Linked DNA regions of Homo sapiens: region 2 is reported to be linked to region 1. The links are microRNA targets in miRTarBase. Many come from high-throughput screens and were not tested one by one. Region 1 holds a microRNA gene; the other region holds the end of a gene's coding sequence.

Region 1 (4,402 bases):
AAGCATTTGTAAAATGTAAAGTGCTGTATAAATGTAACTGATTATTGTTTCATTTAAAAGACATGGTTTTGTTGATATCTCATGAAAAACAGTGCTAGTCCTCCCATTTAGTCATGGCGACAACCTTTTTGTCATAAATGTGCATGGGAGAATCGTTGGTTAGTAGGTGTTTTCCTTTATCCAAGTGGTCTGAGCTGGAAAATATGGAGAATTCCTTCACTAAAGGGCCATATCTTTTGACTCTATTGACAGCATGTCATGTGGAACTCAAAACTGCCTTCGTGAATGCAGATAGATTGCATCTATTAGCTGCCTCTTGTCATCATGACCTGCCAGAAGGGAAAATAAAATGTGCCTACAAATATTTCAATATTTATGTTGTGTGAAGGTTTAATATTCATTTGGAGCAGTGAATGGGGAAAGAGAAAAAAAAGTCCACATCCTTTACTTTGGAAATTGCTCAGTTCAACAAGAATTTATTGAGTACCTACTATGAGCTAGTGAGTGAATGATATGCTAGTGTCTACCAAAGAAAGACACCAAATTCTAATATTGACAACTTCATGTTTGCATACTTTGTCAGAAGCCTTGGAGAATCCCAAGGTCAGGAGTCTTTGCTCATTCCTATGGGGGAACTGATGAAATCTGCCCAGAGGTTGGGGAAGAGGGAAGTAGGTGAAATGGCTGCAGAGGAGAGGTGTTTGTAGTAAAATTGGGGAAGAGAGGAGAGTGGGAGGGGGTGGATCAGACCTCAGAAACACACTCCTACCTGTTAGGATGTAGGTGTGTGCTTGCACTTGTGGGTGGGACCAAGAGACAGGTGTCAGTAGCCTGGAGTTATAAAAACCAAAATGCATTGAATAATTGGATGGGAAACCACACATAAGAAAAGGACTCTTAGCAAGTGTATTTTTTCCAGCAATGCAAAAGTGAATTTACAAGCATATTGTTGTAGCTGTGAAGGGGCAAGCTCTACTAAAGGGATAGATGGTACATGAAAATAAGTTGTAAAATGTTGTTAATTGAAGAATATGTTGATAATTTGTGTCACTGATATTCAGTGTTTTGAATATGTTGTCATTGTCATTTCTCATTATGTAAAAATATAATAATTTTACAAGTTCACTGGTGACTTCATTCCCCTAACCCTATTTTTTCCCCAATAAGGTCCTAAATTCCTGAAGCCTGACTTCTCCTGCCCCAGGGGTTTTCAGAAACCTAACCCCCATGGTTGGCGAGGGACTGCTGTGTGTGAAATGGTAACTGCCCTCAAGGAGCTTACAATCTAGCTGGGGGTAAATGACTTGCACATGAACACAACTAGACTGTGAGCTTCTAGAGGGCAGGGACCTTACCCTAGTCATCTCTCTTCTCACCCTGCACACCCTCCCTGAGGGATCTCATCCATCCCCATGGCGTCAACCACCACCTGAGGACCCTCTAGGCCTGAATTGTCTCCTGAGTGCCACACCCAGCTCTCCAGCATCTTCAGTGTTCCTCCCCGGGTGGAATGCTCCACAGCACTGCCAACTCAACCTGCTCACCAAAACCCAGCTTGTCATATCTCCTCTGGGCCAGCCCTGGCTTCCAGGCTCCTGGACTTGGTCCCCCAGATCAAAGATCCAGGGGTCACTCATTTGGACTGAGCTTGATGGAAAAGTGCTTATGTTTCAATGTTAAGTAAACTGGGGAGCCTATCAAATGTATAGACATGATGAACTCATTGATGTTAAGTACATAGATGGAAAGAGAAATGCTTCAGAATGTATTAGTGGTTGCCTCTAATGGTAAAATAATGATTGACGTTTTCTTTTTCTGACACCCTTGTGCTTTCCAAATCTCCTGCAAAAAGTATTTATTACTTTTGTAACCAGCAAAAATGCCTAATAAAAATGATTGACAGGTCTCCATTTGAGTGTCACCTTTTCTGGGAATTATTGTTTATTCCTTTGCATCTCAAAGAGTCTGAGGCTCCGGGGTTAGACAGCCTCAGCACGTGTGCTTACCCTGTTGGGGAACTTGTTGCACTGTGTTCTTTCTGTAAATCGGCTCTTCCATTAGTCTGTGAGCTCCGAGAGGGCAGGAATCATGGTTATTCATCTCTCATTTCCAGTGCCTAGCACAAGGCTTGCATACATAACTGCTCAATACATGCTTGTTCTTTAAAGGAAGAGAGGGAGGGAAGGAGGCAGGAAAACAAAAAGGTGAAGGACACCAGAATTCTCAAATGTTATACCTCCATGGATCCCTTGTATTATTTCCTGTCCCCAAGATCCTTTGTTTATTAAGCTTTTGAATCTACTGTACCACTGATTTTTCACTCGGTAGTTTGAATTTTTCTGTTTTTTAGTAATCATAGGCCTTATAAATCCCAATCAGAGCTTCTCAGGGCCAAGTCTGGCATATGCCACCTGCTGTCCCAAGTCTGACTTGGGCAGAGTGCCCCCTGCCTGACACCTAGGTCATGGCATGCAGGGCTATCTCCAGTTCTCTGGAGCTGAGTGTACCTTCTGGAGCTTCTTTTAAAGTGGAACGATGGCAAACTGCAATGTCTGTGGGAGGAGGAGAGCAAGGGAACAGATAACATAAGAATAGAAGTGACAATTGCAAACTTCAATTGTGTGTTTCCTCTGTGCAGGCACTGTGCTATGCATCAACACGCACTGTCCCCTCAGCCCTCACAGCAGCTCTGTGACACAGGCACTATTACAATTGCCATTTTGTAAGCAAGGAAACTGAGGCTTAAAGATGCATTAGATGGGGAAACTGGAATTTGCACTGATTGCAGAGCTTAAGTCCAGCACTGCATCCCTCTTCTGAAGTTCCAGGAAGAGCACAGGGAGGAGAGGGCAAGAGAGATGCCTGTCAGGAGAAAGGAGCAGTGTTTGCAATTTCAGAGCCTTGTTTGGGGATGTGCCAGCATAGAGGAGTTTAGCCCCGAAGGCACAAAGCCCTTCACAAAGTCTGTGACACTCCTGAAGTTGTAGGCAATTTGTTCCAGGTATGTGCATTGTCTGGGAAGGTCTTCAAAGGAGTCTGTGTGGTTAAAAAAAAAAAAAATGGTTAAGGAAGCGGACCATGGAGCAGAAAGTTGCAGTGACTGGATTCTGGCTCCAGGCTGCAAATTTAACCATTGAATATCACCCAACAGGATGGATATGGGGATATGGTCTTGTTGATAAAGCATCTCCCTCACACAAGACTTGGAGAAATAATCCTGGAGGGTGTGTGTGTGTGTGTGTGTGTGTGTGTGTGTGTGTGTGTGTGTGTGGTGTGTGTTTATGTGTCTCCCAGGTATTTAGAATCAACTGATTACCAAATCAATCAACAAATATTTATTCTAGCAGAGACTTGATAGCTCTCTGGTTTGTCAGGGTTGTTTAAAGAAGGATTTCTGCCTTGGGTGGGAGTTTGGGCTAAAGAGATAATAATAATTACCATTTATTGAGTGTTGGTTGTGTGCCAGCCAACTCTGCTGGGCACTTTATATACATGATTCCACTTAATCCGCACAACAACACCGACAAGGAAGGTTTTATAACCCATTCTTTACAGAGAAGGAACTCAGAGGGTTTGAATATCTTGCCTAAGGTCATAGTAATTCAATCTGTGTAAGTAGAGGAGCCAAATTTGACTCTACGTCTGTTTCCAAGATTCCACATGTTTCTGTTTCTCTCTTTTTTTTTGATGTGAATGTATGTGTTTCCACCAGAACTAAGATCCATCAAGTTATCAAATTAATAAACAAATGTATTCAAGCAAGACTCGATGCCTGTTAATTAGCCAGGCTGTATTATAAGGGAGCCTTGCTTTGAGTAGCATCTTGGACAAGATCGCCTCCAAGTTCCTCTCTAATTTTAGGGTCTCCTCTCAAATTCCAAACAATCAGTTTTAAATTTTTCTGATAAAAACTTATTGCTCTCCCACTCCCCAGTTCTTCTTCCTTGGCTATGGTAGCAGGGACCACAATCTTTCTCTGCCTTCCTAACAGATTAGTCCTTGTCCATAAGCATTTCAAATAAGAAGAAAATACCCATGTAAATATGGGAAACAACTACTCATTTCAGCTGATTCTCCTTCCCCAGAGAAGAATATGGAACCAGTAGATTTCTGCTCATTGAAAGAGTTGGAACTCATATTCTGTGCCTGGTGGACTGGCTTGCCTTCAGGAAATTGCTCGCTAATCAGAGTGAGAAATGGCACAAAAAATGCTGGGAATCATTTGGGTGGGTGAGATCTGGGGCTGTCTTTATGTTTCTGCCTATGGAAAGTCATGATACAGGGTAGTTACAGTGACATCTCCCTGCTGAATAAATCCTGTTCTTTTGTAATGAAGCATGGCAGCCAGGCCTAGCACACTTCCCTCTGCACACCATCCTGCTCAGGCCTCTGTGCCTCGGCT
Region 2 (4,402 bases), not on the chromosome of region 1:
ACATTAAAAAATAAATAAAATCCCCCATACCTAACCTTTTTGGTGGAAATAAAAAGCCCAAATTGTCAACATAGTCATATCTCCCAAATGTGCAAATTCTATTAATTATAAAATTTCCAAATTATATATCAATATAAAATAATGAGATGGAATATCTTTAAAGAAGCTCATCTGACTAACTTATATTTGAATTTAACAAGGTAACAAGATCTATAAAAATAACTATCAGCACTCCCCAATGCTCAGTCTGTAGGTATTGGCATCCTTTGAACTATTTATCAATAGACTACAAAATAATCTCTACTTTCACATTATTTAGAATTTTCAGACCTGGGTGTATAAAATTCACAGTACATTTTTCAAGATTTAAAATATGAGAAGATACATAAACATTAATAATGTACTCACTATAATGCTATGTGTCCCAATAGGCCCCGATCTCATTTGCTCCTCTCAACAACTCTGTGAATTAGGTATGATTCTCATTTCACCAATGATGAGACTATCAAGTAACTTGTAAGTGAAAGTCTGCCTGACTCAAAAATATATTTTAAAAAAATTACTTTATATAGTAGCTTAATGTAAGGAGTAATAAGTGAAAATTGGCTATTGGGCATGTTAGCAAACATAGTGTTTAAACATAAAAACAGTTAACCTATGTTGCAGCCTCTCTGATGAATACTCGGCCTTGTAACTTGGCTTCTTTAAATGGTTTAAACCTTTTTTTCATGAGTGTTTATTGCTTCTATTAGACTGTGATTTCACTGCAGGCAGAAAAGGGACTAAATTTTCTACCCTTTCGAACACTAATAGACTGCTGAACACTATTTTGTAAATGTGGGTACTTAACAGACCTTTTTTTAGTAAATCTGAAAACCAAAATGACTCTTAATAAGGTTCAGAGTATAAAAAATAGTTCTCACTTAAAATAACATACACCAAAAGAATATAAAAATATTGATTTATTACCAACAAAGCAGGATTTCCCAGTTTTTTCAATTACACACACACAAGCACACACAATAGCAGAATGAAATTACATTTTTCACATCTAAAGGTTTATACCTCAAAGAAAATAGGCATGTGTCCAAAAGACAATTAGAAAGCAAGAAATCTTTCCTTTTACTTTGAATATGGAAAATCTTTTAACAGAGACTCTTTCCAGGCAAACCAATGAAGATTTAGGCATAGAAAATGCTTGTCACCTTAAGGTTTTTAAATATAACTGTATTCACCAAATCAAGTTTTTACTAGAAGTTTTTACGATTTTTATGTAATTAAAAATCAACTTTTGGCCGGGTGCAGGGGCTCACGCCTATAATCCCAGCACTTTGGGAGGCCGAGGCGGGTGGATCACAAGGTCAGGAGTTCGAGACCAGCCTGGCCAATATGCTGAAACCCCATCTCTACTAAAAGTATAAAAAATTAGCTGGGTGTGGTGGGACGCGCCTGTTGTCCCAGTTACTTGGGAGGCTGAGGCAGGAGAATCGCTTGAACCCGGGAGGCGGAGGTTGCAGTAAGCCGAGATCACGCCACTGCACTCCAGCCTGGGCAACAGAGTGAGACTCCATCTCAAAAAAACAAACAAACAAACAAACAAAAAAACTTTTGTTTTAAGTGGCTGAGACTATGTGCTAGACTTACTACTGTTTAATATGCTAAAATGATACATAATTTATTCTTCACAGCTCAAAATTCAATGTAAAGCCAAATATTAATTTTGTCCAGTAGAGAAATTAAATGTTTACAAACAAAGTATGGAACAGTTGTTGGCCTATGTAAATTGAAATGTAATTGACCATTTTATTTTCAAACATGCTTAATCTTCACGTGTCTTTTTCACATTGATACTCATTTTGCAGAAATAAGATGACTGGTACTAATTTAGACAATAAACAAACTACACCAAGCACATTTTAGTAAAGATATTTTGGTGGAACGCAAAGTAATTAACGATGAAAACATTTGGTAATATCCATTTACTAATATGTTACCAAGTTCTTCAATGTTTACATGACTTGCTCATATTAGTAAAAATGTCATTTTAAAATATTTTCACACTTCATGCACTGGAGTTAGTTTAAGAAGGGAAGGCTCTTTTAAAATGTTTATAAAGAAGAAAATACCTTTTTAAAGAGAAAATGTCTAAGTGAGAGGACATAAACTTATGGCTCATTATTTTTTGACCTAGTTAAGAATATAAATTTCAATGGCTACTTAAGAATATACAAAACCCAAACTGAAAGCAATTCTTCAATTTATTCAGGCAAGCAAGTCAAAAAAATAATTTTGTCATTACTGGCACAGATCCAATCCACTGTTCAAAGACATGACTTTGGACTGTCTATTTTCCTATAAGATTTATTTTTTAAAAGAAGATAATTTGTTTGGTTCTACTAATTAGTATAACTTAGAGATAAACAAATGATTTTCCCATTTAATTCTTTTGCGGTGAAAGAAAACAGTTTAAACTAGATTTTCTAAGATAATGGGTACATCAACATTGTAAGAAAGGCCCTATAGGCTTAAGTTCTAAAAACATTACGGTTTTAAAGAAATCAATGCTTTTCCATCACTCTTTACATAACACTGAGAAATTTCAAATATAAATTGTAGAAACCAGTATATGAAATTTTAAGAAAAATCTTACTAAAAATAATTATAAAATGCTTTTAGAAATGTAAGATGTAAAATATAATTGACTTTAAATAAAATAAAAAAAAGCAACCCCTGCCCCCACACTTTAAAAGGTTATTCTTTAAAAACCCTTGTCACCTAATTTTATTCTCAGTCAATCTTTTGGTTGTATTTTGCATCATCTAGTGGCCACCTTGCAGCATTTCAAAGCAGTTCTGCTACCATTTTTGAACCCCAGTGCTTTTTTCCCCTTGAAATACCAATAAAATTATAGCATCAAGTTTCATAAAACTTTCTTTTAAAGGCCCATAAAATTCCATTTCCTACTGGAGATAAGGTAATCTTTTTTAATAGGAAGAAATGACTAGATCTGTCATAAATTATTACTATACATTAGACATTTTCATATCAATTTTTTAAAATTAAATATAACATTGGGAGAAACTAGGACTTAGGCTCTAGAGTCATCTTTAGGCTCTAAAAGTAATTAAAGTTACTCTGCAATTAAAGCTCAGGGCTACCATATAAGTAACTTCTTGTGATTAACCCTTCTTCCACTGTACCTTTGATTTGTAATATTAAGTACATTTTAACATGAGAACTGAATGACTCATGGTCAGAGTGCCAAGAACTCAAGTTCAACCAAGACTGAAGAAGACTTAACTTTTACTACCAGCTGCTATTTTGGAAAGGTCATTATAGTTTCCATTATCAACCTATTTGTATTTAAAAGCAGGTTTCCAAAAATAACTGCTTTTCGTTTTAGTGAATCTCCTTTTATTCAGTTGAGCCATACTTATAAACAGAATTTAACAAAAAAAATTCCCAAGTTCCCTCTCTTTACTTTTATTAAGAAGGTTGAGTGAATGTAATACGGCGCCGCCGCCTTTGGAAAGCCTTTAAATTCCATGTGTTTGGTTCCAGCATATGAGGGCCATTGTAGACAAACAAAACTGTCATCTTTTCAGAATAAGGAAGATTTTGCAGGAGCTGTAAGTATTAAAACAAATTGTCATATAAGCTATATACTGAGAAGTATAGTTTTCCAACCTTACATGTGTACAGTCAAATGTATTATTTTATTTGCAATATTAATAAAACTTTTTTTTTCCCACTCTGCTGCTCAGGCCGGAGTACAGAGGTGCGATCTCAGCTCAGTGCAACCTCCACCACCCAGATTCAAGAGATTCTCGTGCCTCAGCCAGCCTCCAGAGTAGCTGGGATTACAGGCATGCACCATCAGGCCCAGCTAACTTTTTGTATTTTTAGTACAGACAGGGTTTCACCATGTTGGCCAGGCTGGTCTCGAACTCCTGACCTCAGGTGATCTGCCCGCCTTGGCTTCCCAAAGTGCTGAGATTACAGGTGTGAGCCACTGTCCCCAGCCAATAAGACTCTTAAGAAGCTCTTAAACACCTCAATATAAACCTTGCCAGACTGTAATCCTTACCTAAATTAGCATACCTGTAGCCTGGCCTAAGGAACAATCAAAATAAGGAATAATCCAGCCCTCTAGATTCACAGGATAACTGGGATTATTCAACTTCCTTGGCAGACCTTGGAAAAGAGTATGTCCTCCACAATTTTCCTAGGGTAGATACTTTCACTTTTTATTTATAAACACTTCTCAAGCAACTTCTTTGATAGCCTGGTATCCTGAAAAGTGTGTAACAGGGACATTTGTAGACTAAGGTATTTGGCAAGCAGTAGGGTATTAACAGATGTGACTATTCCACAAGACTATCTACTGAAAAAAAGAAGACAG

The links. Region 1 holds the annotated microRNA hsa-miR-708-3p (CAACUAGACUGUGAGCUUCUAG, at 1,318-1,339, shown strand). A microRNA usually pairs through its seed, bases 2 to 8, with sites in the 3' UTR of a target mRNA and lowers its output. Matches are read on the target gene's strand: a 7mer-m8 pairs with bases 2 to 8, a 7mer-A1 pairs with bases 2 to 7 and ends in A, and an 8mer does both.
Region 2: miRTarBase lists SMC5 as a target of hsa-miR-708-3p. Seed matches in the 3' UTR shown: 7mer-m8 at 2,470-2,476.

The regions. Positions count from the first base shown.
Region 1 is chr11:79,398,969-79,403,370 of GRCh38, reverse strand. MIR708 (microRNA 708) reads left to right here and starts at 1,262; the gene lies at 1,262-1,349. The region is part of intron 1 of TENM4 (teneurin transmembrane protein 4); the gene reads left to right.
Region 2 is chr9:70,351,416-70,355,817 of GRCh38, reverse strand. It overlaps SMC5 (structural maintenance of chromosomes 5), which reads right to left. Exons shown (of 25, transcript NM_015110.4): 25 at 945-3,627. The coding sequence ends at 3,487. Among named protein-coding and RNA genes, the nearest start is that of KLF9-DT, 61 kb to the left of the region's middle.